Regions from separate parts of the Homo sapiens genome. Here regions 1, 3 and 4 are each reported to be linked to region 2. The links are microRNA targets in miRTarBase. Many come from high-throughput screens and were not tested one by one. Region 2 holds a microRNA gene; each other region holds the end of a gene's coding sequence.

Region 1 (7,115 bases), not on the chromosome of region 2:
GCCCCCTGGTCCAGAGGCCACCTCCTGGGCTCCTAGCCTGAGGCTTCCCCACTCAGGGGGACAAGCCCAGGTGGAAGACCCTCTGACGAGGACCCAGGCATGCTGGGCTCTAGCTGTCTGTCTATCCCTGACCCCTGGTGTGGCTTTGGGAGCTCTCTTGCCACTCCAAGGTCCCTCTGTAGGTGGGTGAATTGGATTAGTTGGTGTGGTCCTGAGACCCAGCAGGGTCCATCTCCTGGCTGGGGACAGCAGTCATCTCTGCTGACCTCACCCTCAGCTTTGGGAACTATCCCTCCCATTTCCCCGTGGGGGGCCCACCTGGAAAGTGGCGTTGAGCCACTGTGTGGTGCGTGTGGCTGTTTCCCAAGAGCCTTGGGCAGGGGATAGAAAGCCAGTGTCCTCCCCATGGCTTCCTTCTCCTCTCAGGCTGATGTGGCCTGGGGATGATGATTCTGAACTCAATACTAGGGAGCTCTCTGGCCCCCAGGCCTTGATCAGCATCTCTCTCAGTGAGACAGCATCTGTAAACAAACATTTGGGTCCCCCTGGGGGAGCCACTGTGGCTTATCCAAGTTTTCTTAACACTGAGTCCCACTGGATCAAATCACAGACCTGTATGTCTCAGGGCTGGAAAGACCCCTAGGGGCAGCTGACTCAACCTTCATATTAAAGATGGGGAAACTAGGGCAGTGGGTGTACCGCTTGTCCAAGTTCACCCAAGATCAACAGCGGAGCTAATAACAGATTTCACTTTATGCATGGGAGGGAGCTTAGCTAGCTGAGGAGCCTGAGGCTCTGGAAGGGGCACCACCTTGCCCGTAGTTCATGGGGAGGCAGACAGCCCAGGGCCCCCGATCCTCAGCCAGGCTTGCACTTCAAGGCCCTGCCACCACCACCAGCACCCCCCATAGACCTATATTGCTGGTCTTGGAGGTAGCCCGCCCCTCCCATGATCCTCTGTCTCTTCCCAGGTCTGGAACCACCGAGTGCTGAAGGATGAATTTCTGGGCCAGGTGCACCTAAAGGCTGACCCGGACAACCTCCAGGCCCTGCATACCCTCCACCTCCGGGACCGAAATAGCCGGCAGCCCAGCAACCTGCCAGGCACTGTGGCCGTGCACATTCTCAGCAGCACCTCCCTCATGGCTGTCTGACACCTGCCCACCTACCTGGCTCTGACCGTTCCCACCACCATCTGCATGTCCCCACTGGGCCTGAGTCTAGCCTGGGAGCCAGGATACTGGGGTCCTTTTCCCACTCTTCCACTGACTTGCTGTGTGACCTTAGGAAGTCTCTGCCCCTCTCTCAGCCTCAGTGTCCCGAGGGCCCCGAAGCATTCCATTCTCGTGGAGGAGTTTCCTTGCTGAGATTTCAAATAGTCCTCCCCACCTCAACTGTCACCACTGCTAAGGGACTCTATCCATTGAGCACATTTTCCTAAGGCCCTGCTGTCTGCCGAGGAGCGCCAAGAAGATGTCACTTGTTTACACACGAACTGCCACATCCCCAAGCTCCGTTCTTGCCCCTCGTGTCCTAGGCCCAACCCAGCCTCCCAGACCTCACTTTCCCCATCAGCAATACCTGGTGTTCTCCCACCTTGAAAGGACTCTTGGCTCCTGCCGGGTTCCTGCTCAGGCTGGAATTGGGAAAATATGCAGGTGACATTTGTTCATTCTCTAATCCCATCCTCTCACCCATCCATTTCCTCACTCAGTGGAGATTTGCCAAATGAATAAACGACACCTTTGAGGCCCCAGGTGAAGCGGGGCCCTACTCCGGCCTCTGCCTTGGGCCTCGCCTCTGTCCTCAGGTCCTCTCAGAGGCAGATACCTAGGGGAGCTGCTGCTGCCTGCTCATTCTAGCTTCCGATTCCATTCCCAGCCCCTGCGTTAAGGTCCCTGGAGAGGTGGCGTCAGTGGGGGTGAGGAAGGGCATCTTCCTGACTCCTCTGCCCAGTGCTGGAAGGAGCATGCCTGGGTTAGTGGGCCAGGGGCCAGGCAGCTGGGGGCCTTTGGGGACCAGAAGGGGAGATGTGCTCCCAGAGCCTCTCTGCTGTAAGACCCCAGCTTTTCCTGGAAGATGGGACTCTGGGGTGTGTGGTGCTCACCAGAGTCAGGCCACCCACTGGGCTCGGCAGGAGATAGGGAGCCCCATCACCTGACCACAGCCCCCCACCAACATTCCCCCAAAATGCAGCCTAGGAGGCCGCAGTGCTCTTCTTCCTGCCCAGACCAAAATGTTCCTTTTAGTCCTCAATGTTTTATATTCTTTTTGTTTTGAAAATCTCAATTTTAATCAGGGGTTTTAAAAGAAAATTGAAAGCCTGAACCTCCATTTTTCTTCTTGGCTCCAGTTTTGCTGGTCCTCTGGAGAACTCTTCGTGAGCACTGGTGCCGTGACCCACTTGGGATCTCTGCTGTGCCCTTCTCGGGCTTCCAGACCAGGTGTAGCAAATGAAAAAGTGCAGTTAATTCAAGAACAGGAATCCCTGTGTCCTTGCTGGGATTTCCTTTTGGGAACCTGACTTTCCGACTCCAGATCCTGCTGTCTGGATCAGTGTTCTGGCTGGAGGTGCTGGATTCTCTGATTTTGCCTCCTCACTCTGTGTCTGGCTTTGCTCCTGGGTCTTGGCCCTGGGCCATATGAGGGGCCAGGAAATGAACGACAAGGAGGATAAGAGTGTTCTTTCTTGAAAGCCGGGACTTCCCCTCAAGAACCTGGGCCTGGGGCCGGGACTCTGCATGACTGGGAGCAAGTCACTTAAACCTCCTGTGCCTCGATTTCCCCCTTCTACAAAGTGGGGCCAATGATTCTTGTGTGTCAGCACTGTTACTACCGAGTGCTGAGTAAGGGCAAAATAATACCCCTTTCTCTATGTATCTCTGTATGCACACGCACTATATATATATATATATATATATATACATTCATGTAATCACCACTTCTCGATGTCTATTTCAAATCAAGGCTCCTGAGTAGGGGGTGAAGTGAGCCAGCTTGCACCTCAGGCTAACACATAGGACTTTGCTCAGCCATGTCCCCTGGGATACAGGGGCACACCAGGACCAAGTGGCAGACCTGTGGGCTTCAGCCTCGGGGCCGGGGCATGCCTGCCACCCCCTGACAAAAACAGGTTCCACAGTGCTACCCTTGCTTCCTGCCCCTTGAGGTGGGCCAGGCTGGCTCCTGGCTATGCAGGGATCTCTGGTCCCCAGGAGACCTTGGGGGCCAGGCAGGTAAGGATCAGGGGTGATAGGGGAGAGCAATTACTTTGTTCACTGTATGCACCCGCGGGGGCCTGGGAGTCCCCATTTGCAGGTGGGTAGGGCCTCCAGCCCACACCACCCAGACCTAGGCTTCCCTCTTCTCAGGATCCACCACAGGGTTAGGGGACAGGAAGCCTGTTCTATTCTCAATAAATCTTACAAAATTCCAAAAAGACTTTCCTGTGTCCCTCTGTCCCCCTGGGGGGAAGGGACAATGGAGGAATATTCCCCAGGCCTGGGCGACTGTCCGCTGGTCAGAGGGAAGGCCCCGCTGCCTGCCCGGTGCACCTGTGAGCTGAGATTGTGGGGATCATTCAGTCATTCCTTTATTCAGTAGATCTGTACGGGGCTGGCTTTGTGCCAAGGCCTGCCCCGGGCACCTGGGATGTGGGGAACCAGGCATAGCAATCCCTGCTCTGGGACAGTCTACAAACGAGCAGCGAGAACAAAGACATACTCTGGTCATGACAGACACTACCCCGCACATTACTGATGGGGCAGTGTGGGCCTGCTGGGTTAGAGACGGCCTACTCCCTGATCTGTGCATGAAGGGCTGGGAAGAGGAGATGGGCCTTCGGGGCACAGGAAGGTGTGGGGGGACCAGAGCGGAGGCTGCTGAGGGCAGATGCAGGCATCTAGGGCCAGGAAGCTGGTGTGGTGGTGGGGAGAAGCAGGGTTGGGATGACTGAAAGCAGAGTGGACGACTCAATGAAAAACGACTTGGGAGACGGGGTGAGTGCAGTGTGAGGGCAAAGTGAACCGAGATGCCTCGCTTTCTTCATGGGACTGAGAAATGGGTATTGCAAATCGTGTGATCTGCTTAGCATAGTGCCTGGTTCATAGCATGGCTGAACACAATGTAGCTGTCATCCTGGTGTTTGGAGGCCGCCCTGTCCCCCATAACCTGCCCACCTCTCTGCCCCATTCCCACAGCTCACTGCATTTTGTCCCTGCTGCCAGTCGTGTGCCATGGGCTCTCCTGTGCTCCCCCGGGGTCTCATTTCCCCATCCGTGTAGGGCTGACGCCACTGGCCCCGCCCAGCCTGGGAGGATGGAGAGGGGGGACTTGAGGAGTGGCCAGTACTGGGTTTCGGCAGCAGGTGCAAATCCCAGGTGGGGACTGTGTTCCAGGGACTCCTGGACTCCTGTTAGGCCAGCAGGCTAAGGGGCAGACGGCATCCTGGGGTCTTCCTGGGACAGGGTCGTCGGGTCTGAGGGGACCCAGGCCCTAGCAGAAGCTGACTCCTGTCACGGTCACTTCCCAGCGGTGCTCAGCCCGCCTGACGGAAGCAGCTGGGCAGTGGGGCCTGTGACCAGCAGGCGGCGCTGGCGAGCTATAGCGCCCCTTTGGGCCCCCACCCCACCTTCTGGGCAGCTTCCCTGCAGACACCCCAGTTATGGGGGCTAGGGACCCAAAAGAGACATCCTTCTGCCACCCAGAGCTGCCCTGGCGAGGTGCACTATGGGGCCGCCGACAGCTGCGTGGCTGCCGAGGGCGGAAAGGAGAAACTGTCATGTCCCGATAGGGCCGCGCGAGGTCTCCATCCTCGACAACGCTAATAACAAAGACGTGTGCTCCTCTTTGCTTGGTTCCCCCCACTCCTTTAAATCACAGATTTCACTTCAGTTTATCTGTGTCGCTGTCACACGTGGGGTGGCTCCCAGTCAGCTGGTTTGGCAAAGTTTCTGGATGATTACGGAATAACATGTGTCCCCAACCCGCAGAGCAGGTTGTGGGGGCAATGTTGCATTGACCAGCGTCAGAGAACACACATCAGAGGCAAGGGTGGGTGTGCAGGAGGGAGAAGGCGCAGAAGGCAGGGCTTTAGCTCAGCACTCTCCCTCCTGCCATGCTCTGCCTGACCGTTCCCTCTCTGAGTCCCAAACAGCCAGGTAGAGGAGGAAGAAATGGGGCTGAGACCCCAGCACATCAGTGATTAAGTCAGGATCAGGTGCGGTTTCCTGCTCAGGTGCTGAGACAGCAGGCGGTGTCCTGCAAACAACAGGAGGCACCTGAAGCTAGCCTGGGGGGCCCACGCCCAGGTGCGGTGCATTCAGCAGCACAGCCAGAGACAGACCCCAATGACCCCGCCTCCCTGTCGGCAGCCAGTGCTCTGCACAGAGCCCTGAGCAGCCTCTGGACATTAGTCCCAGCCCCAGCACGGCCCGTCCCCCACGCTGATGTCACCGCACCCAGACCTTGGAGGCCCCCTCCGGCTCCGCCTCCTGGGAGAAGGCTCTGGAGTGAGGAGGGGAGGGCAGCAGTGCTGGCTGGACAGCTGCTCTGGGCAGGAGAGAGAGGGAGAGACAAGAGACACACACAGAGAGACGGCGAGGAAGGGAAAGACCCAGAGGGACGCCTAGAACGAGACTTGGAGCCAGACAGAGGAAGAGGGGACGTGTGTTTGCAGACTGGCTGGGCCCGTGACCCAGCTTCCTGAGTCCTCCGTGCAGGTGGCAGCTGTACCAGGCTGGCAGGTCACTGAGAGTGGGCAGCTGGGCCCCAGGTAAGGATGGGCTGCCCACTGTCCTGGGCATTGGGAGGGGTTTGGATGTGGAGGAGTCATGGACTTGAGCTACCTCTAGAGCCTCTGCCCCACAGCCACTTGCTCCTGGGACTGGGCTTCCTGCCACCCTTGAGGGCTCAGCCACCACAGCCACTGAATGAAACTGTCCCGAGCCTGGGAAGATGGATGTGTGTCCCCTGGAGGAGGGAAGAGCCAAGGAGCATGTTGTCCATCGAATCTTCTCTGAGCTGGGGCTGGGGTTAGTGGCATCCTGGGGCCAGGGGAATAGACATGCTGTGGTGGCAGAGAGAAGAGTCCGTTCTCTCTGTCTCCTTTGCTTTCTCTCTGACACTCTTTATCTCCGTTTTTGGATAAGTCACTTCCTTCCTCTATGCCCCAAATATCCCATCTGTGAAATGGGAGTATGAAGCCCCAACAGCCAGGGTTGTAGTGGGGAAGAGGTAAAATCAGGTATAGACATAGAAATACAAATACAGTCTATGCCCCCTGTTGTCAGTTGGAAAAGAAATTAACTTGAAGGTGGTCTAGTTCTCATTTTTAGAAATGAAATGTCTGTCTGGTCATTTTAAAATGTGGCCCTTAAATTTCACGCCCTCACCACTCTCCCCCATCCCTTGGAGCCCCATGTCTCTAGTGAAAGCACTGGCTCTGCCCCCAGCCCTCATGGCTCATGCTGGCATAGGGCGCCTGCTCCACAGCCTGGGCACCATCTTCAGACAAGTGCCCGGTGGCAACTGCCTGCTGGCCCTGTTGAATCCACATCTCCACCAGGCATCCAGACTAGTTCAGGTCTCTGGAAGGACTGTGGGTTTGCTGTGTCCCAGAGCTCCAGGGCAGGGGTCAGGGCTCGGATGTCGGGCAGTGTCATGGGCAGAGGATCGAATGCCCCGGCGGCTCTGAATGGGCCCTTGTGAAAAATTGATGCGCATTCTAGGAGACAGGTTGGGAGCCAGAGGGGCCTCATACCAGGGTCTGTAGGCTGGGGCTGCCTTTTAAGCTCCTTCCTGAGGCCGTCTCTGGGTCTGGCCCTGTGCTGGACAAGGCTGGAGACAAGGCAATGTCTCAGACCCTCTCCCATTGGCCACATCCTGCCCTGGATCAACTCGCCAACTTTGGGGGCAGAGGTGGGACTGACCCTTACCCTGACAACATAATGCATATAGTCAAAATGGGATAAAGGGGAATATAGAGGCTCTTGGCAGCTTGGGAGTGGTCAGGGAAGGCTTCCTGGAGGAGGTATCATCTGAACTGAGCCATGAACCATAAGTGGAAATTCACTAGTCAAAATTTCAGGTAGAAGGGCCAGTGTGTGAAGGCCAGG
Region 2 (7,119 bases):
CTCTCATGGAGCTTACATTCTAGTGGGACAGGGAAGAGACAAAAAATAAGCAAGTAAATAAGGTCATTTCGAACGATAAGTGCAATGAAGGAAAATAGGATAATGTTTTCCCAGCACCATTTATTGAGTAGGGAAGCCTTTCCCCATTCTTTGTTTTCATCAGGTTTGTCGAAGATCAGATAGTTGTAGGTGTGCGGTCTTATTTCTGTATTCTCTATTCTGTTCTATTGGTCTGTGTGTCTCTTTTTGTACCAGTACCATGCTGTTTGGTAACTGTAGCACTGTAGCATAGTTTGAAGTCGGGTAGCATGATGCCTCCAGCTTTGTTCTTTTTGCTTAGGATTTGCCTTGGCTATTCAGGCTCTTTTTTGGTTCCCTATGAATTTTAAAATAAAATTTCCTAGTTCTGTGAAGAATCTCAGTGGTAGTTTAATAGTAATGGCATTAAGTCTATACATTGCCTTGGGCAGTGTGGCCATTTTAACGATATTGATTCTTCCTATCCATGAGCTTGGAATGTTTTTCCATTTGTTTGTGTCATCTCTGGTTTCTTTGAGCAGTGGTTTGTAGTTCTCCTTTCACCTCCCTAGTTAGCTGTATTCATAGGTATTTTCTTTTCGTGGCAATTGCAAATGATGGGAGTTTATTCCTGATTTGGCTCTCTGCTTGGCTGTTATTAGTGTATAATAATGCTAGTGATTTTTGCACATTTATTTTGTATCCTGAGACTTTGTTGAAGTTGTTTATCAGCTTAAGAATCTTTTGGGCTGAGACTATGGGTTATCTAGATATAAGATCATGTTGTCTGCAAACAGGGATAGTTTGACATCCTCTCCTCAATCCCATTACTGGGTATATACCCAAAGGAATATAAATCATTCTATTATAAAGACACATGCACACACATGTTCATTGCAGCACTATTCACAATAGCAAAGACATGAAATCAACCTAAATGCCCATCAATGATAGACTGGATAAAGAAAATGTAGTACATATACACCATGGAATACTATGCAGCCATAAAAAAGAACGAGATCATGTCCTTTGCAGGGCCATGGATGGAGCTGGAGGCCATTATCCTTAGCAAATCAATGCAGGAACAGAAAACCAAATACTGCATGTTCTCACTTATAGGTGGGAGCTAAATGATGTGGACACATGAACCCATAGAGGGGAACAACACATGTTGAGGCCTATCAGAGGGTGAAGGGTGGGAGGAGGGAGAGGATCAGGAAAAATGACTAATGTGTACTAGGCTTAATACCTGGGTGATGAAATAATCTGTGCAACAAAACCCCATGACACAAGTTTACCTGTGTAACAAATCTGCACATGTACCCCTGAACTTAAAGTTAAAAAAAAAAAGAAAAATAGGATAATGTGATAGAAAGTTAAGGAGTCAGCTAAGGCTATTTTGAGATGGTCAGGGAAGTATTTTCTGATAAAATAGCACTTGAGCTATGACCCTAATGGCAAGGAATCATCCTATTGGCCAGAATGTAATTGTGGGGGAGTGATATGAGAGGGAGATGAGGAGTGTAGAAGATATCAAAAATGTAGGCAGAGGCTATGTCATGTTTAGGCCTTCATGGGCCTTGGTACTGTTTGGATTTTATCTAATACTTAAGAGTCCATGAAACATTTTTTTTTTTCTAGAAGAATCTGTGTAAGATTGGTAGTATTCTCCAAATTCTGGGGGAGGAATTCAGTGCTCGAAGATATTGCAAGTCCTACAGAAATTTCACTGGCACGTTAAATCTTTAACATTTTAATAATCTCTGGAGTAATTTCATTATTGAGCCTATTGTGATCATATCCTGATACTTGTATAAGTGCCACCTAAATAATTAATGTGCCTTGAGTCCTTTATCTGTCTAAAATGGTTATAATGACCTTCCTCTAACAAACTCTGTGATGTGCACAAAGAATTATGGTTTTTTTTCCTCAGTATCAAGAGTAGCATTCAAATTGCTGTGCTTCTATAAATAGACAACTTAAGATTGAGAAGAGTATTGTATTGAGATTTGCAAATATATGATTGTCTTATTTTACCCTAATTTTTTCCAGCAGAAATGCAGTATCCATTTCTAACCTCCCAAATATATATATATATGTACGTATGTGTATATAAATGTATACGTAGATATATATGTATTTTTGGTGGGTTTAATTTTTTTCATCTTTTTTCATAGTTTTTTTAGGGGCTTCATTTAACTTCTGGTTAAGTCTTGATTTCTTTTATCTAAAGCATGTAGAATTTTAAGAAAACTATTCCCTGAATGTGGTTTTCTGTGTTATAAACTTTTGTATTTGTGCATATTTATGGAGCAATGCTTTGGGGAAAATAACAATTTTTATTCAGCCCCTTGCTTAAATCCTTAATCCTTTTTAGCTATAAAAGTACGTAGAAGTTCTTATCGTCCATTACAGTTTTTTAATGTTAAAAAGTTGAGCAAGTTTTCACATTTAAAGGTAAATATCCTATTGCAGAATAATAGAATATTGCTGATGGGTAACTTTCTTATGCAAATTACATTGTCCCATTTGGCATAAAATTTCTGAGCATCTATCAGTATTCAGAAATCTAAGCCCTTTAGGCTGGGCACAGTGGCTCACACCTATAATCCCAGCACTTTGGGAGGCTGAGGTGGGTAGATCACTTGAGGTCAGGAGTTCAAGACCAGCCTGGCCAACAAGGTGAAACTCTGTCTGTACTAAAATTACAAAAATTAGCCAGGTGTGGTGGCACGCGCCTATAATCCCAGCTACTCGGGAGGCTGAGGCAGGAGAATCACTTGAACCCGGGAAGCAGAGGTTGCAGTGAGCCAGGATTGTGCCACTGCACTCCAGCCTGGGTGACAGAGTAAAACTCTGTCTCAAAAAAAAAAAAAAAAAAAAAAGAAGAAGAAGAAATCAAAGCCCTTTAAGGGCCTTTGATTTATTAATGCTACATTTTCTCATTTGTACCCCTTTAAAGCATATTTTTAAAGAAAAGATGTCATCATTTGGTCTCTATTTCTTTTCTTTTTCAAACAGGAAACAGAGAACACTGCATACAAAGTTGGAAATGAGTCCCCTGTACAAGAATTGAAACAAGATGTGTCTAAAAAGGTTGGAAAGATACAATGTCAATATTAGTTTATAGCAGACATCATATTTATATGGTATATTTCAAACAGCTTTTATATTCTTTTAGTATAGCGCTCTGTACATGGCTGATGTTCAGCAAATGTTTCATGAATCTGTCACATTTGTGGTTGAAGACATTTCAGTCTTTTTAGAAGTCCTTTTCATATTCTAATTGGTAATTTATCCTTGAGACAATATTTTGTAAAATGCTTTTATTTTTTGTTCTTGTATTTTTATCAGAATAAGCCCTAACTCTTCTTGAGGTTACTACCAGGAGTTATGGGTATTGAAAAGCTCAGTGCAGCAACATTCTGATGTCTTTAGGAATCAGAAGTTATAAGAAGTCCTTACTCTGATAGTACCTGATACCTTTTAAAAAATTGATGCTATGAAGCTTCAAAGGTTGGTTTACTAGAAGAGACTGAGCACAAGATCAGTATTTTGAAAATGGGCAGTTTACAGTATCAGGATAAAACTCAAGGAGAAAGACAGGATGGTGTGTTTTTATTCATTTATACAAGTTTTAAGTGTTTTCTGTGCCCTAGGCAATGTTCTAGCCAGTGGGTTTCCAGAGGCTAACAAAATGACACATTCTCCACCCCAGAGTTTCTCCAGTACTGGCACTCGACATTTTGGGCTAATAGAGGGTAGGGGAAGGCCTGTTGTGTGCATTGTAAGATGTTTTAGCAGTATCCCCAGCTTCTACTTACTAAATGCCAATAGCATCCTCAACTCCCAATTATGACAACCAAATATATCTCCAGATGTCTGGGAAGGGGTATGGAACAAAATAACCCCTAATGGAAAACCACTGTTCTATCCTTATGGAATTTAGAAATTTAATGGACTACATTTTTTTTTTATTTGAGGCAGGGTCTCACTCTGTCGCCCAAGCTAGAGTGCAGTGGCACAATCATGGCTCACTGTAGCCTCCACCTCCTGGACTCAAGTGATCCTCCCACCTCACCCTCCTGAGTAGCTGGGACTACAGGTGTATGCCACCATGCCTGGATAATTTTTGTATATTTTATAGAGACAAGGTTTTGCCATGTTTCCCAGGCTGGTCTTGAAATTCTGAGCTCAGGCAATCCACCCACCTCAGCCTCCCGAAGTGCTGGGATTATAGGTGTGCAACACTGTGCCCAGCGAGACCACATATTTTGATATTGATCATACTTTTTCCTTTAAAGGAAAAATGTTCCCTTTTGGGACGAATGGTGGATTGCATAGCAGTGTACATAACAGGAATTGAACCATTTTTTTAAAAAAATAAGAAATTGCCTATAATTCTATACTATAACACACAGGTGTCTTGATTTTTCAGCATTTCCTTCTGGTCCTCATCCATTAGCATACATTTTTCTGCCTAATTGTAGTGTAGGTAGAATTTTATATTCTGTCTTTTACTCTTACCATTTTTAGATTTTCCTCATACTTCTATATGAGTTCTGTACTCAGATGCATCAGATTCCATCAAGTAAATGGATTACAATGTTATCTAGCCATTTTTATTGTTGAAACTTAAAATATTCCTGTTTTTTCCACTATAGCTTTTCTTATTTTTTAAAGAATGTTTTTCTTAGGATAAATAACAAATGTATAACTATCTATAGTTAGTGGGGAAAAAAGATGATTTTAAGGAGAGTTTAGAAGTTTAAACAGTAGTGAGAAAACACTGTGGAGCAGAATGAGGTTTAAGATTCTAAATAATCACTTTTTAAGTTCTAGCCTTTTCAGTTGAATTAAGTATGAATCACTAATGATAAAGGCTATGGGGATATACCCTGGACGAGGGCATACTCTGCTCTCGAGTAACTTACATTTTAGTAGAAGAAATTGGATAAACACAAAACTAAATGCAGTAAGTATTCAAATAAACTTAGAAGCTATTGTAAGAACACAAAGGGAAGGAGACTTCTTGCTTGGGGGTAGGAATGAAGATGACTTCATGGAGGAGGTAGCATCTGAGCTGGTTCTTAATGAATGCATAAGATTTGGACAGGCTAGGCCGGGCACGGTGGCTCACGCCTATAATCCCAGCACTTTGGGAGGCCGAGGCAGGCGGATCACCTGAGGTCGGGAGTTCGAGACCAGCCTGACCAACATGGAGAAACCCCATCTCTACTAAAAATACAAAAATTAGCTGGGCGTGGTGGCGTGTCCCTGTAGTCCCAGCTACTTGGGAGGCCAAGGCAGGAGAATCGCTTGAACCTGGAGGCAGAGGTTGCAGTGAGCTGAAATTGCGCCACTGCACTCCAGCCTGGTGACAGAGCTAGACTCCCTCTCAAAAAAAAAAAAAAAAAAAAGGATTTGGCCAGGCTAAGATGGGAGAGGAAAGGCATTACTGAAGGCATGGAGGTGGGGAATGTGCAGAACATTTGAGGATGAGCCTAGAGAGCAAAGTTAGGGCTGGATTATAGGAATGCCTTATGTCATACTAAACTGTCTGCTTTTTATTTATTTATTTATTTATTTTTTGAGACTTGAGTCTCGCTCTGTTGCCCAGGCTAGAGTGCAGTGGTGTGATCTCAGCTCACTGCAACCTCCACCTCCTGGGTTGAAGCAATTCTTCTGCCTCAGCCTCCCAAGTAGCTGGGTTTACACCAACACACCACCACGCCAGGCTAATTTTTTATATTTATTTATTTATTTATTTATTTTGTATTTTTAGTAGAGATGGGGTTTCACCATGTTGGCCAGGCTGGTTTTGAACTCCTGACCTCAGTTGATCCGCCCACCTCAGCCTCCCAAAGTGCTGGGATTACAAGCATAAGTCACCGTGTCCGGTCACAGTGAGCTTTTTGCAGCAAACAATGCTTTAGCATAATCATCTCTATGTGTGTCTTGGTTCTCATTGTTCTCTTAGTCTTTCCGTTTTCACTATTTCCTAAAATCCAGAAAAAAATGACAGGGCTAGGCACCATAAGAAGGTGTCATGAGGCATATCAAGAGGCAAAAAACATGGACCTTTCTCTCCAGGTACTAATTATCTGGTGTAGAGAAAATAAATAGAGCTAGCCTATATACAGCTCTGTATTTGTATTATAGTTCATACTATACTGAACAGTAAGAATAATAATAGAAGTGCAGAGGAGGGAGAGATTATTATCAGATAAGGGATTGGGGAAGATGCATTTTCAACCTCATTTTGACCCCTCTTGTGGCACAGACATTTCCATTATGTGTAGTGATTATTTCAAACCTTTATACTCACCTCATGCTCACTGTACCCACTCACATCCCCCTCACTTTCAGCCGATAACCTTGTTTCCTACTCCACGTAAATATTAGAGGCTAAAAAGCCTGAATCCATTCCTTTGTATCATCTTTCACTTCCTTTACCTACATATTTATTGTTATTTCTTACCTTTTTTTCATGTCATCCATCACTGAAGATTTAGTATTCTTGTTTTCTGTCCAAAGTAGTGTGGTATAATACAAAGATCACTGGATTTTTAAGTAAGACCTGGATTTCAGTTTTGGCTTTGTAGCTTACTAATTGTGGGACTGGCAAAATTCTTAAAGCCTTTACCTCAGAGTCCTGCTTTTCTAGGAGGGAGGTAATCCAGCTACCTAACCCAAAGGCCTGTATGACAATTAAATGAGAATGTGTATACTAGGTCTAATACACAGTAGGCCTTCTTTCCTTTCTTTTCCAGAACATTGCTCTGTTATCTTCTTTTCCAGTAGTTCCTTCCCTTCAGGTTATAAAAGTGCTGGGTCACTTTATCGAAGTCTTTTTGCATTTATAGCTAAGCTTTTTGAAAACTCAGACCGTGCTAATGTCTCTGTATCTTCACCTCTTATTCAATCTCAAATCCATTGTAATATGACTTCTGTTATCACTGTTATCATTGAGGTTCTCAGTGCTCAGTAACCACCTAATTGACAAATTGGTTGGACTCTGGTTAGTTTTGGTGAAAGCAAGGTAATTTCTAAGGTTAACAATTTGAAGTTTGAGAAAAACTAACATATAGAACATGCTAA
Region 3 (7,119 bases), not on the chromosome of region 2:
AGACCAGGGAAGTGACTTGGGTGAGTTACACAGAAGCCGAGACTCTTAGGGTCATAGCCCTTAGTCCTTGGGACCTCACTGTGACTGCACACCTACCCTGGGTGACAGCCTCTCTGGGCTGTTGTCTCCTTGTCCCGGTAAGACTCTTCCTGTTTGATGTCAAGGTCTCCCCGCTCCAAGATGCACCCTGCTCGCAGCCCAAATTATCTTACCTTAAATCAGAGGCAAGGGCAAGGGGTTTGTCATCTGTTGAGACTGAGAGGCAATTTAATGAATTGCAGCGCAATTCCCTCTAGCGCCCAGGATGGCAAAAAGCACAGATGTAGTCACGAGTGGGGCTTTAATACCCGTCTCTGCCATAAATTTACTGTGTGAGCCAAACATAGCTCCCATTTTCTCTAGATACTGGAATTAGATCAAGGACTCGTAACCATTTTTAAAAAATATTTTATTTAGGTCACAGTCTCCTTTGAGAATTTGACAAAAGCCATGAGCCTTTCTGAAGAAAAAAGGCAGCGATACAATTTTGCTTATAACCTCAGGGAGTTTCTGGGGTCCCTGAAGTACAACCGTGGACCCCAAGCTAAGAATCTCAAAGGCCTTTCCCAGCGTTGTGATTCTAATCTCTTCAGCCTTCCTGGCTGTGTGTGGTGTGTCTGCTGACACCTACACACTAGATACCTATCTATGGGTTATGACCTTTTCTTCTGGCATGTACTCCAAAAATACAATAACCATGGCCTTAGTAGTCTGGCTACTGTGGGTGCTTAAGTACTTATTGTGATGTTTGTGGTTTTTAAATCTGAAAGGCTAGTAAATTGACTGCACAAATTTTGGATGACAGAAAACCTAAATTAAGCAAGGTGTGGTGGCTCACGCCTGTAATCCCAACATTTTGGGAGGCTGAGGCAGGTGGATCACCTGAGGTCAGGCATTCAAAACAAGCCTAGCCAACATGGTAAAATGCCGTCTCTACTAAAAATACAAAAATTAGCCAGGTGTGGTGGTACACGCCTGTAGTCCCAGCTACTTGGGAGGCTGAGGCATGAGAATTGCTTGGACCCAGGGGGGCAGAGATTGCAGTGAGCTGAGATCGTGCCACTGCACTCCAGCCTGGGTGACAGAGTAAGGCTGTGTCTTAAAAAAAAAAACAAACCTAAATTAGAACTTAATCACCTCTGTAGATTCACTTGTTTGAGCAGCCATGGGGTCCGATGTCTTTACTGTACAATATAAAAACTGCTTTGAAGTGTTTCCACAACACTCATGAGACCTGTTCACAAATGCCTTTGCCCCCACGAGTCTGGATGTCCCTGGGGGCTGGGCTACTATTTCTGTTTTGCTCCCCACTATTGTCTAACCCAGTAACTAGCACATGAAAGCTTAAATAGATCTACGTTTCAGTAATGGTATTTGGAGTATAAGCGGGGAGAAGGCCATTTAAGATGACCTTCAGGTCAAGGCACTTTCCATGTCTTTCTTCACTTAACCTTATTGCTTGGTCATATGGAGTTATGTTTAGCATGAACTTCTTTTGGATTCTTCCATTAACCTTTATTTATTTATTTTTAGAGGCAAAGTCTCACTATGTTGCCCAGGCTGGTCCTTGAACTTCTGAGCTCAAGTGATCCTCCCACCTCAGCCTCCCAAAGCCCTGGGTTACAGGCATGAGCCACCATCTCTGGCCCTTCCTTTAAGCTTTTAACAAGTTCTTGTAAACTTTATTCATGGTAAAAAAAAAAAAAAAAAAAAACAAAAAAAAACAAAAACAGAGACAACTCATATGCCCCCAAACAGGAAGTGGAATCATAAACTCCATGCAGGCTGGGCACGGTGGCTCACACCTGTAATCACAGCACTTTGGGAGACCCAGGCAGGCAGATCACGAAGTCAGGAGATCAAGACCATCCTGGCTAACACGGTGAAACCCCATCTCTACTAAAAAAATAGAAAAAATTAGCTGGGCGTGGTGGTGGGCGCCGTGGTGGGCGCCTGTAGTCCCAGCTACTCGGGAGGCTGAGGCAGGAGAATGGCGTGAACCTGGTAGGCGGAGCTTGCAGTGAGCAGAGATTGCACCACTGCACTCCAGCCTGGGAGACAGAGCGAGACTCCGTCTCAAAAAAAAAAAGAAAAACAACTCCATGCAAACTGATTACTATATAGCTATTGAAACAGAAATGGAAGTATATGGATTTATTTATTTATTTATTTTTAAAGACAGAGTCTCTGTCACCCAGGCTGGCGTACAGTGGTACAACTGTAGCTCACCGTAGCCCTGATCTCCTGGGCTCAAGTGTCTTCCCACTTCAGCCTCTTGAGTAGGTGGGACTGCAGATGCATGCCACCATACCTGGCTAATATCTTTTAGTTTTTGTAGAGATGGGGTTTTGCTATATTCTCCAGGCTGGTCTCAAACACCTGGCCACAAATGATCCTCCTGACTTAGTCTCCCAAAGTGCTGGGATTACAGACACGAGCCACTGCACCTGGCCAGTATATGGATTTTATCAACATAGTAGATAGGGATGTAAATGGCAAACATTAAAGTTAGTACAAAACTGATTAAAACTGTCTTTAAAAAGTGTGCTAATAAGGAGCAAACTGATTTAGTAAAAAGTGTTTCAATTTACTTTTTAAGTGTTTTAGTAAAATTAATATCATGCCTTACTGAGGGTTAAAATGTTCAAATTTCTTAAGATTGACAGTCTGCATAAATGTAATCTATTAAATCCTTTAAGTGCTTACAGACAAAAATCAAGATACCTTGCCTTCAAAATTTAAAGACAATAGTATGACAAGAGTGAAAGCCAGCTAGATACCCGAACAATGCAAAGATCTGAGACAGCATTCCCACAATCACATTCGCTCAGGACTTGAGATAATGGAAAGCATTCTGATGAATTATAGACATGATTTAAATCTGAAAGTAGCTTGGGGTAGAAAAGAGCCTAGGGTTTGGGGTCAGCTGTTTCACTGTTCTTAATCTGCCTTTGCCATTTACTAGCAGTATAAACTTAGGAAAAGTACTTTTTCGCATCTATAAAGGGAGATAATATTCTTAAGGCTTTGGGCGGAGGATGAGTGAGACAAAGTATGCAAATCACTCTAATAGTCACTCAGTGATACGGTAGTCTCTTCCTTGCTGCCTTTCCATAAGACATTAGCCTTGTAATTAATCATATTATTTTACTATTTATGACTTTTAACACCTTGTGTTTGCACTGAAGTTTTTACCTTGAAAGGTCATATCTCCATATATTCAGTGTTCATAATGTTATTAAACATTCATGTCAGGCTGGCTGGCTGCAGGTCTACAGACAGGGAAGTGACTTTAACACTATTCTATAGATGGGACTTTGGAAGCCTATAAAGATTAAGTAACTTATCAACAGCATTACTGTAATGCTAACAGGACAGTACTGAAACATATCATTTAGCACATGATTCAGATGCAACCCTTATATAAGATTAATCAACATTTTCTTGATTTAGGCCAACACCATAATGCACATAGTTTCATTTGCCAATAAATGGAGGTGGAATTATCAGATTCACTAAATTTGCAATTTGCAAAAGAGAAAATGAGAACCTCTACAATGTAAAAGTTAATAGAAGCAGAGTAAGGAGTATATTAAGAAAATGGCTAAGATTAGAAATTTAATCTCCATTGTGGGTTGATTTTTTTCTTAAGAAAATTATGGTAGAATAGAGTGAAAAACAGGTTTTATAATTTCATAGCAACTATGATGATCATGATTAGGGAAAAGACAGCTGAGACTGGACTACAAATATTAAAAATGTGATTTTTAATAATATAAGTACAAAATTTTATTTCTTTATACAACTGTAATGGGATTTGGATCAAACCACTAGAATTTATTTAAAAAACAAAATAAAACAATGATATAAAAACTGCAAGAAGGTCTGAATCCAAAGTTTTTCCTCTAATAGTACCAAATACCACAAGGTACAGATTATTATACAAATGTGTACAAATTTTAAATACAAATACAATAGGGCTGGGTTTCAAAGGAAAACAAACAAAAAGCAGGTCCTCATCAGGATTTCATTAATGTATATAAATGACAATGCTAGGATTAATGTCTTCCTATACTATCCATGTCTTCCCCGCCCCTCCTAGATACCCTGTGTCAAACAGGAAACTTCCACAGATACAGAAGAGGCATGGTACAATGTTCTAACACATGAAATCAAGTTAAGATTTCTGTTCCTCTTGATTTTGGTTCTCAAACAATCCTGTTTCTCTGTATTCCCAATTAAATCTTAAAACTGCTCTGAGCTGAGAAAGGGATTCAGCAGCCAGACTACCTTTAAGCAACATAGCCCTGTGACAACACTGGTGGGGAGAAGGGAAGAAATTAAATAGGATGCAGATGGGCTACACTGTCCCCAAAGATTTACTTTGATGCTGTAGTGCTCTGTCAGGGCCAGGAGAAGAAAGCACAGTTAACTCAGAGCTTGGTGTTGGCAGAGAATCTCATACCAAATTTAAAAACCATCCTGAAGTGCTCAACTGTCTTCTTTCCAACTGGGAAACAAACGTCTGGTTCTCTGGAAATAAGGGCAGCTGGGGATGGTAACATTCCTCTTTATTTTACTTTCTAGACATTATTGAAGCCCATGAAGTTCTTTATAAAGAATTAGAATCCTAACACAATGATTCATTTTTGAGGTAAAATACCTTAAAATGTAGATGATTCAGAGTTTTTGGAACAGACCAGGAGGAAGGAAGGAAAGAGGGAAGGAAACAGGGAAGGAAGGAAGGAAAGAAGGGAGGGCGGAAGGGAGAAATGACAAATCTGTATCTTCCACATGCTGTTGCTGGTGGAGGCTTCTGTTATTAAATTATATATACAGAAATTTACAGGATAAATTAAAATCTAAGAGATTTTAAAGAGTTAAATACACATAATTAAAATACACATTCACACACACATAAATAAACCTACAAGAGAGTGAGTTTTGTTTTGTTTTTGCAATTCACTTACATGTGGAATGCAGAACACTGTGTATCTGCCCACCAGGGGAACTGATAAGATGAACCCAAAAATCATGCTGGGCAAAGTTTATCCATAACCACCGAGCAACTAAGCAGCACGGCTTGTGAGGACTTGGTGGCTAACTTCATGCTGCCAGTGAAAGACACCAGCACTTAATTCTGCCGACTAAAGATTCTGGGTTAGCTCAGAATGTATGGAGGTCCAACTGGTGGCATTGACAGCTTCACCCCCCAAGGTGTTTTTTGCTGCCAGGGCTCACAGAACTCCTTGGCCTCTGTTGAGGCCACCAATGGTACCAATGATTACAATAAATTTTGAGACACAGACACCTATACAGTAGGAATTGGAATGAACCCTCTACTCAATTCACCTAAGCCACTTCCATAACTATAAAGGGAACAAATTTTATCACCTCCCACCTAGGTCACTTCAAATTGAAAGGCTTTGAATTTTCAGTCAACTGGCATCTTCCCGTTATCTTTCCTATTACATTTCAGACTAAGACAGGTAAGGCAAATGGTCAGTGATGGGTCTGGAGGTCCAACTGAGCTTGGAAAATAATCACATTTTAGCTGTCCATAAAGAGATGCGCTTGGCACCCAGAACAAGCCCCCAGCCCCCAAGTTACATTGATTTTTAAGGCAGATTTATCCACCACAGGAGAAAAAAGAATCCCAAGCCTGTATTCATGCCAAAATTTCCTCTTGGCTAAACCTTTGCCATTTCATAAAATTATTAAAAGCAAAGTAGTTACAGTCTATGTATATATTGTACATTATATATATATGTATATATGTATGTATAGATATAAAAATTTAAAACCTACAGCCAGAGGCCACTGAAGGAATCTGCAACAGTCATATATACACAAACCAGCAATGGTGTAGGATAAGGTTTCTGTCCCAGGATTCTTTGCTGTCACAGTCCCGGCATGATGTAAGCAATGTTGTCTAATGTGTTTGACTGCAAAACAAAGAAAAATGTTCAACTGAAGAGTACTGTACCTTGGTTTCCTGAGAGATGTTTCTTTGTTCAAGGAGAGAGATAAGAAAAATCAAATGGAGTTAGAAAAACAGGTGAGAATGAAGACGGCATCCTGCTGTTTGTTATGCTAGGAACTTTTCTGCTGACTTCTCCCATTAATCCTCGTAAAAAAGAGGGAAACAATTCCTGTACTGTCTTTGGGTGCAGAATAGCAAACAGGAAACACAGGAATTGTAGTACCTCAAGGGCTAGAATGCTGCTTTCTTAAGTACTGTTTTGGTAAATGGCTTGTTTTCTAGTTTCAGTGAAAGTACAGCATGCATTTGATAATATAGCATCATGTTCCATGGGCCAACAGATGAAGGAAGCACTGTGTGTCACAAAGCCTTATGTGTGTCTGACAGTGCTCATTAAGGCAGGGCATCTCTGACGCCCAATGGATCTGACTCTAAAAATCCAGGGAAAACTCACCAAGACCTGTTTGGGACAGCCATTCAATTCAGGTAGTTGTGTGGTGAGACATGCCAAGGGGCCAAGGGCACAGATAATGGAATCCAGAAGCACTGACAAACTGCCAGACACAGCCACCATACCCTGAAAAGGAGAGGAGGTTGTTGCTTGAGTCACACTCCTGATGCTGTGTTCCGGCTGACTTCCTCACACAGTACTTTAAATCCTAGGCAGTTCTACTCTTATAATTTGAAACTTTACAGCAGAAATGGAAAGTTTACTTTGATAACTCTGTAAGTTGTTTAGAAAGAAAACTTTTACAGCACATTCCCATGTTCCCTTTCCGTAATCCTAGCCCATCTTCTTACCTTCTGAGTGACCTTGGGGAGTTCACATCCTTAACTTCTGTCTCCTTAACAGGAACAGTAAAAAATGCTTTACCTACTCTGGAGAGCTGTTGGTAAGATTTGTGATTATGTATGCAAAGTATATCTGTTATAAACTCGACAAATATAGCTCAGATGTGATTACTATGAGAATCCTACAACCCTGCATGTATGTAGCTTTTGATAGCTGATTATACAATTTTTCTAGGTTGAGTTGTTCACTCTCAAAGTGAATTTGGTTCAAATTTTAACATTTTATGTAATTCATATTGTCTATT
Region 4 (7,113 bases), not on the chromosome of region 2:
CCCCAAAGCAGTACCGGGGGTGGGGAGAGGAGACACGAAGCCTGGTGCCTCCTCCCAACCTCCTACCTGTGTAGGCCTCCAGCACTTGTGTTTCCTTCTTCCTTAGAGTCGGTCTCCTGGGAAATGGTGCTTACAGAGATGGAAGAGTTTAATACATCTCTTGCTTCCTCTCTCTTTTCCGAGGCCCTCAGAGGGAGCTGCAGAAGCAGTGGCTGGCGGGGGCTCTGAGGCGCCTGGGTGAGGGAGGAGGGGGGTGGCGTGGAGCCTCAGCCAATTTGGAAAGCACTGTGACCCAAGCACATCTTGCAGCAGCAATGTCAAATTCTGCCGTTCAGGCATGCCATTAGTGTGCACGCTGCCACACAGGAATCGGTGACACAAAGGCACATCCTTCCCCACCCTCCTGGAGCTTAGAAACTAACGGCTCTAATGAGAAATGAGGGCAGAGAGGAGAGAGATGGGGGCGGGCCCCCTCCTTGTGGGCTGGCGCTGGTGTCAGAGGAGGCTGACCCACTTCTTGTGGTGGTGAGGGGCCTTGGCGGCCAGCCCACTGAAATGCCACTTAAACCAGCCGCTGCTCCCTGCACGAGGGTCTCCTTTGTCCAAACCCCTCACTCGGCGCTCTTGGAGAGAGCCCTGTCCCCCTGGTAGTACAGCTACTCTCTCTGCCTCGCTTCCTTTTCTCCCCCAGGGTCCCTTCACCTCATGGGCTCTTCAGGGCCCAGACTCCCCTGCCTTCAGCAGCCCTCTCTGGAGAGACCGGCAGGACCGCGCGAGGGAGGGTGCTCAGGTGGCCATGCGACGCGCCGAGCCTCTCTTCTTTTCCCGGCTTTTTGATTGTGCCGTGAGTTATTTAGCCAACAATAGATGTTTATGTATTTTTTTAGAGCTCATATTTATTAACAGCCTGGGAAGGAGGAGACCGGGAGATTTATACGGAAAGCACGGTGAGTTAAAAGGGACAATTAGAGGAGCAGAAAGATACCGAGCATAGAATTCTAAAGGATATTTTAACGCACAATCAAAGGTTCTTGAGATATTTTCCAAGTAGACAGAAGGTAAAAGAAAATTGGCCCATTACGAGCTGATAGTGGGGGATTGGTGATGGGGATGGAGTCGCGGCTGATGGCTGAACTCCTGCTTAGAGGAAAGTGAAGTTAGAGGGCAAGGCGGGGAGCTGAACCGGGTCAGGAGGCTTCAGAACGGGGGCTGGAAGGGACTCCATCAAAGCATGCACCCACCCCTCCTCAAAGAATGAACACCAGCCAGGTGCGCTGGCCCAGCCTGTAATCCCAGCACTTTGGGAGGCCGAGGTGGGCGGATCTCTTGAGGTCAGGAGTTCGAGACCAGCCTGGCCAACATGGTGAAACCCTATCTCTACTAAAAAGTTAAAAAATTAGCTGGGCGTGGTGGCTCGCACCTACAATCCCAGCACTTTGGGAGGCTGAGGCAAGTGGATCCCATGAGGTCAGGAGTTCGAGACTAGCCTGGCCAATGTAGAGAAAACCCATCTCTATTAAAAATACAAAAATTAGCCGTGCACGGTGGCTTGCTCCTGTAATCCCAGGTTCTTGGGAGGCTGAGACAGGAGAATCGCTTGAACCCGGGAGGTGGAGGTTGCAGTGAGCCAAGATCGCGCCACTGCACTCCATCCTGGGCGACAGAGCAAGACTCTGTCTCAAAAAATAAATAAATAAATAAATAATAAAACAATTAGCCTGGTATGGTGGTGTGTCCCTGTAGTCCCAGCTAATCAGGAGGCTGAGGCAGGAGGATTGTTTGAGCCTCAGGAGGCTACAAATAAACGCAGAGAAAGACTGCCTCCCTAGGTCAGCATAGAGTAGGACAAATAAACGCAGAGAAAGACTGCCTCCCTAGGTCAGCATAGAGTAGGGCCCGGAGGAGCTGGGTCCCTGGCAGAGAGGTGGGTCGGCTCATGGGCTGGTGGGGCCTGCCTGGGAAGCGGGCGTGCATGTCCAGGGGAATTTGCTGAGGGCTCGGTGGCTCCAGGGAGCCTCCGCAGCAAACTCCTTCCCTCTGACCCCAGTCCCTGCAGCTTGCCCTCCACGAGGCCTCCCGGGCTCTCCCGCTCCCCCCAACCTGCTCACAGGCCTTCCTGGAGCCCATTCACCGTGGCGGCAGAGCGCTGGTGATTAGCTGGGTGATGAGTAAACATTTGCTAAATGGGATTCTTGGCTTTTGCAAAGAACAGCCCCGGCAGGAGAGGAGGGGTGCGGTTGGTGGGAGGGGCTCTGGGGCTGGCTGATGGTCACAGCCCGCACAGGCAGAAGCGCCGGGGTGATCTGAGCTGCTCCGAAGTCAGGAGGGGCTGAGGGCGGCCGCGGCTGGGAAGCAGGGAGCGCAGGCCGTGGAATGCTTCCCAAGCTTGGAAGCAGCAGGTGTCTGGGAATGGGCCTGTGGCCCAGGCAGACTTCCAGCGAGCGCTCCAGCTTGCTGGCACCAGGGGAGGATCTGGCTGAGCCCAGGAGGCAAGTTTCCACCATGAAACCCACTGTTGAAGAACCGCGGCAAGGTTGCCACGGTCAGAAACCACGTGCCTATGGACAGGCTGGGGGGGGTGGGCGGGAGGACGACCAGGTCGGGGGGACCGCACAGCCCCTCCACTTCCACGGCAGAGTGGAGTCCCTGAGCAGAGTCCCCTGGGCCGCTCCCATACAGGGCGCGTCTCCCATGCCCTCAGCTGGGAGTGGTTTGTGGATACCCCAGACACAGTGCTGTTACCACCTCTAGCCCTACTCCCCACACTCTTCTCTGGGTGGCTCCTCATCCTCCAAGACTCATTGGAGTGTCACCTCTGCCTGGAAGCCCTCTCTGACTGCCCCCACCCAGCTGAGCTCCTCATTTTGGGGGCCGAGGGGTGCTACCACAAGCGCCAACTCCATACCAGTTGCGAATACTTGTTTCTACATCTAGGCTCTGAGCTCCTTTTGCCCCGAGCCACGTCTTCTCACGTTTATGTCCCCAGAGCCTGGCCAGTGGCTGGACACGGAGGTCCCTGATCAGCCCTTGTTGAATGAACTATGCAGAGCCAGCCAAGCTCTGGGGTCAGGGGAGGAGCTTGTGTGAAAGGCCTTAGAGACCACCAGTGGCCATCCAGCCCCTCCGACAGGGGTGGCTCTGTCCCCATCAGTCCACAGTGGAGGCCTTCAGTGGCCACCCAGCCCCTCCAACAGGGGTGGCTCTGTCCCCGTCAGTCCACAGTGGAGACCACCAGTGGCCACCCAGCCCCTCCAACAGGGGTGGCTCTGTCCCCATCAGTCCACAGTGGAGGCCTGTGTGGCAGGAGGGCTGGGAGGGAGAAGAGATGACTCCCTCTGGGGGTCCAGGGAAAGTGGGAAGATGGCAGCGGAGGGGTGGCCCCCGCCTCTGGGAAGACCACAGGAATCTGCATCTCCATGCCCTGAACCAGACGCAAGGGGCTGGAGCTGGCGAATAGAGAAGCTTTTGCCTCGCCCCTGACGCGTCCAGTTGCTTTGATGTTTGGGGCGATGGTGTCATCATAACTGCGTAGCATGAGCTGCTGAGTGACAACTGATGTCGTCTGCAACAGAGCTGCCTTGATTCCCCCTACCTCTTAGAGGAGAAAGCTGCTAAAAATACCTGGCGTCCTGGGCCCCCACTGCCTTGCCTCTAATAACAGTCGGCAACCAGAGACTGTGCTGTGCTTGACAGAAGCGGATCATTTATAAAACATTAGCATTTCTCGTACTGACATTTCACTTCCATATTACAGGACTTCCTAAGTCTTTTTTTAAAAAAAAAATTAATAAAGTGCTTAGACTCTTGATTTTCCCACTGAGGGCCTTGCTGTCTGAAGCTGGAAATGAAATCAACAACACAACAACATCCTTGGGTTCTAAGGGACAGCCAGGCCCTAGCACCTCGGCCTGGGTCAGAGCCTGCAGGCCACAGGGGAGCAGGTGCAGGCTGAGGATTCTTTGGTCTGCAGTCACTGGGCTCCCTTTAGTGAATGCCCCAAGCCTCATACTGAGGAGGATTTGTCCAGCCAGGCCTGAAAACACAGCCTTCCTCCCTCTATCCGGGGAACCCTCTCCTTTCTCTGAAGCCAGAGAGACGTGTGCAGTCTCCAAGCCCACCCACAGCTGTCCGGGTGGGTCCCTAGCCTCCTGGAAAACTCCTTGGGCCCCAGGTACTGACTGTTTCCTTGCAGCCGCCCGTCCCCACCAGCCGCCTGCCGGGCGCCCTGAGGATCAGTCACTTAGCCATTGCTCCGGAGACTCCCGGGAATAGGCCAGGAAGGACCCAGGACCAGCCTCCTCCGGGGAGAGCCACGGAGATGGTGCCGACCCGGGGCAGTCAGAATGTGGAAAGTGAATCATGATCTGTGCGGGCAAGGGAAGTGCCACGAAACGGAGCACCAGGGTGTGCGTGCTCTCATGTGTCCCGTGAATCAGTGCGCCCCTGCCCCCTGCGGCTCCTCCCGCCAACAAATGTGCTGTGTTCCCAGAGCTGTGCCCGGCCAGGCTCGCCCACCCACAGAAGCCCAGGATCTGCCACCTGTCGGGAATGCGGGGTTAGGAAATGAAAAACAGGGTTCTTGTCCAAGATCATTTATTGTTATTATTATTTTTCTCTCTTAATTGGATTCAGCGTTTCTGGCTCCTCACACACATCCTCTCTGGTGGGGGATTCAGGTTTGTGCAAAGCACAAAGGAGCTTGTACCCACCTGGGCCCCCGGCCAGCAGCACGGCCGGCTTTGATCGGAGCCCCTCTTCCCTGTCCGGGCTCGCCTGCCCCAGTCCCTGCTTCTGACCCCTGAGTCCGGCCTCCCGAGCCTCTGCCTGCACCCTGAGCATCCCCAGGACGGCTGGGAGGGCCAGGTCTTCCGTGATGCAGAAGTGCCTGAGATGGTTCATGAAATGCCCTCATTGTTCCCCTTCTGCTAAGGCCCCCGACGCCTCCCTCCTGCTGTCCCACACAGGGCCCTTGCTGGGTCACACACCAAACAGCCTCAAGGAAAAATTCAGCAGCTGAGCCGTGCGGGAGGCCTGGGCTCAAGCCCGGAGTCTCCTTGGCCCGTCCAGGCCGTCACTGACCAAACGCTAGGCTGACGACACGGTCCGACCCTTTGGACTAACACTGTGGATGCTGCCTGGCCTGCTGGTTTCCAGATCCCAAAGCCCCTTCCTTCCCCTTCTCCATCTCGCTCACCCTCGGGGCCTGGCTCCCTCATATACAATAAGCTGCTTCTCACTTCTCACCCTGAAGCCAACAGCTACGACAGCAGGGGTGACAGGGCGCTCCAGGGTGGCAGACAGGCTTGTGTTGCATATAAAAACAAGGTGATGCTCTAAATATCTAAGAATATTGGTCCCCCAAAGTGACTCTTGCTGCCTCCCCCTTCCTCACCGTCCCGCCGACACCTTGCCCCAGGCCCTTGGCAAGGCCAGGTCCCTTGGAGACTATCGTTGCCAGTTTGGGATTCTAGACAAAAATTCTATCACTTTGTTTTTGCTAGAAATCACCAATACAATCCTTAGTTCAGCAAATACAGTTTTCTGTATAGTTTATAAACATGAAAAGACGTACAGTTAGGTAACGGAGTGGGAGGGGGACTGTGCATTTGTGTATATATATATATATATATATATATATATATATATATATATATGTAGAGTGTGAATATATATAAGTGGACGTAGTTAGTTATAAAACTGCACCTTCTGTGAGAACCTCATTGCCCGGGATGAAGTTCTAGATTTCAGCCTCTGATGATCTTTCCTTTGGTAATTGGTTCTTGGACCCCAGCAGTTGGACCTGGGTCTGCCAGGGTTGCCTGAGACATCAGGAATGAGAGGCGCTACCCCCGAGGGAGGGGCTGAAGGTGGAGTAGGATAGAATTCAGGGCAGGGTGACTGGCCTCAGGCAAGAGCCAAGATGCCACCTGCTCGTGTGTGCCCAGACTGCTGGCCACCCAGCCTCGTGGGTGAGCCTCATTTGTTCTTCTCTGCGTCCTGCTTTCTCCAGGAACCACGGGGCCCTCCAGACCTCTCGGAACGATCGGGATTCCACAGAGCCCCGGTGCCGCCGTCGGGGGCAATTGTCCCACTGTTGCCAGTGGAGGATGCACTTGGAGTGCCTTTTCCCACCTTGCCAGAGTGGACACTGTCCGTGGGCGCTCTGCGGGGCTGGCTGGGACAGCCGGCTGAGAAGCGCCACCCCCTCCCGCCTAGGGCTGTACACTTTGGGTTTATAATCCACATGGCAGGGTCCAGACGTCCAGACAGCAGCCGAAGGCTCTACCAGCCTTTTCCTGAAACCCAGCAGATCTTCCACTTGTTAAAAAAAGAAGAAAATAAATTCTGTTCCTTGGTGGACATGTGGCAGTGCTGGGTGCTGACGCCCTGGGTCCTCAGCGGAGAGTGACCGCCAGCCCCAGTGTCCAGGCCAGGAGGGAGGCCCCCAGGGAACTGGCCGAGGAGGCCTGCTGCACCCCGCTGGGGGCACGGATGGGGGTCCTGCGGGCACACTTGCCCTTCCTCTTGGGCCGGGCCGTAGGCATGATGTCAAAACTGAACTTGTGCTGGTAGTCTGGGGCATAGTCTGGCAGCTCGGGGGCCTGTTTCCCGGCGCCCGCCTTAGAGATCTGATTGCGGTTCCTGGGGTTGGTGCAGTTCTTCCCCGGCTTCCTGTGGCCGGGCCGGGGGCCGTGCGGGTGGCCCTTGCTCCTGGTGGGGCCGTGGGGTGAGTGGTGTTCCTTGCGGGCGGCCCTGTCGGTGGTGGTGAGCGTGTGTGACTTGATCTGGTGCGGGGACGCTGGTCCCGTGCAGTTCCGGAAGTCCTCGGCCCTCAGCAGCTTCAGGTCCTGGCCGTGCCGCAGCCCAGGGGACACACAGGGGACAGCGGAGCTGGAGCCCCGGAACCTCTGCAGCCATTCCCACAGGGAGCGCGCGCGACAACCACAGTCCCAGGGGTTGCCGTTGAGGCGGAGGAACTCCAGGGCCCCCAGCGGGGCCAGGCACTCACCCTGCAGCTCCGAGAGGCTGTTGTTGAAGAGGAAGAGGGTGGTCAGCCTGCGGAGGTCGTGGAACGCCTTGTGGTGGACCCACTGCAGCTGGTTCTCGTGCAGC

The links. Region 2 holds the annotated microRNA hsa-miR-1277-5p (AAAUAUAUAUAUAUAUGUACGUAU, at 2,101-2,124, shown strand). A microRNA usually pairs through its seed, bases 2 to 8, with sites in the 3' UTR of a target mRNA and lowers its output. Matches are read on the target gene's strand: a 7mer-m8 pairs with bases 2 to 8, a 7mer-A1 pairs with bases 2 to 7 and ends in A, and an 8mer does both.
Region 1: miRTarBase lists CAPN5 as a target of hsa-miR-1277-5p. The part of its 3' UTR that is shown has no 7-base or 8-base seed match.
Region 3: miRTarBase lists HMGXB4 as a target of hsa-miR-1277-5p. Seed matches in the 3' UTR shown: 7mer-A1 at 3,811-3,817.
Region 4: miRTarBase lists RTN4RL1 as a target of hsa-miR-1277-5p. Seed matches in the 3' UTR shown: 7mer-m8 at 5,665-5,671.

The regions. Positions count from the first base shown.
Region 1 is chr11:77,122,717-77,129,831 of GRCh38, forward strand. CAPN5 (calpain 5) reads left to right here. Exons shown (of 13, transcript NM_004055.5): 13 at 972-3,439. The coding sequence ends at 1,154. MYO7A (myosin VIIA) reads left to right here and starts at 5,530. Exons shown (of 49, transcript NM_000260.4): 1 at 5,530-5,773. RefSeq lists enhancers at 4,216-4,938, 4,939-5,662, 6,385-7,108.
Region 2 is chrX:118,384,301-118,391,419 of GRCh38, forward strand. MIR1277 (microRNA 1277) reads left to right here and starts at 2,094; the gene lies at 2,094-2,171. It overlaps WDR44 (WD repeat domain 44), which reads left to right. Exons shown (of 20, transcript NM_019045.5): 3 at 3,040-3,114.
Region 3 is chr22:35,292,472-35,299,590 of GRCh38, reverse strand. It overlaps HMGXB4 (HMG-box containing 4), which reads right to left. Exons shown (of 11, transcript NM_001003681.3): 10 at 6,477-6,599; 11 at 3,784-5,984. The coding sequence ends at 5,940. It also overlaps a transcript of TOM1 not described here. Among named protein-coding and RNA genes, the nearest start is that of TOM1, 3.9 kb to the left of the region's middle. RefSeq lists an enhancer at 1-122.
Region 4 is chr17:1,930,101-1,937,213 of GRCh38, forward strand. RTN4RL1 (reticulon 4 receptor like 1) reads right to left here. Exons shown (of 2, transcript NM_178568.4): 2 at 4,577-7,113. The coding sequence ends at 6,396. Among named protein-coding and RNA genes, the nearest start is that of RTN4RL1-AS1, 84 kb to the right of the region's middle. RefSeq lists enhancers at 1,552-2,117, 2,118-2,682.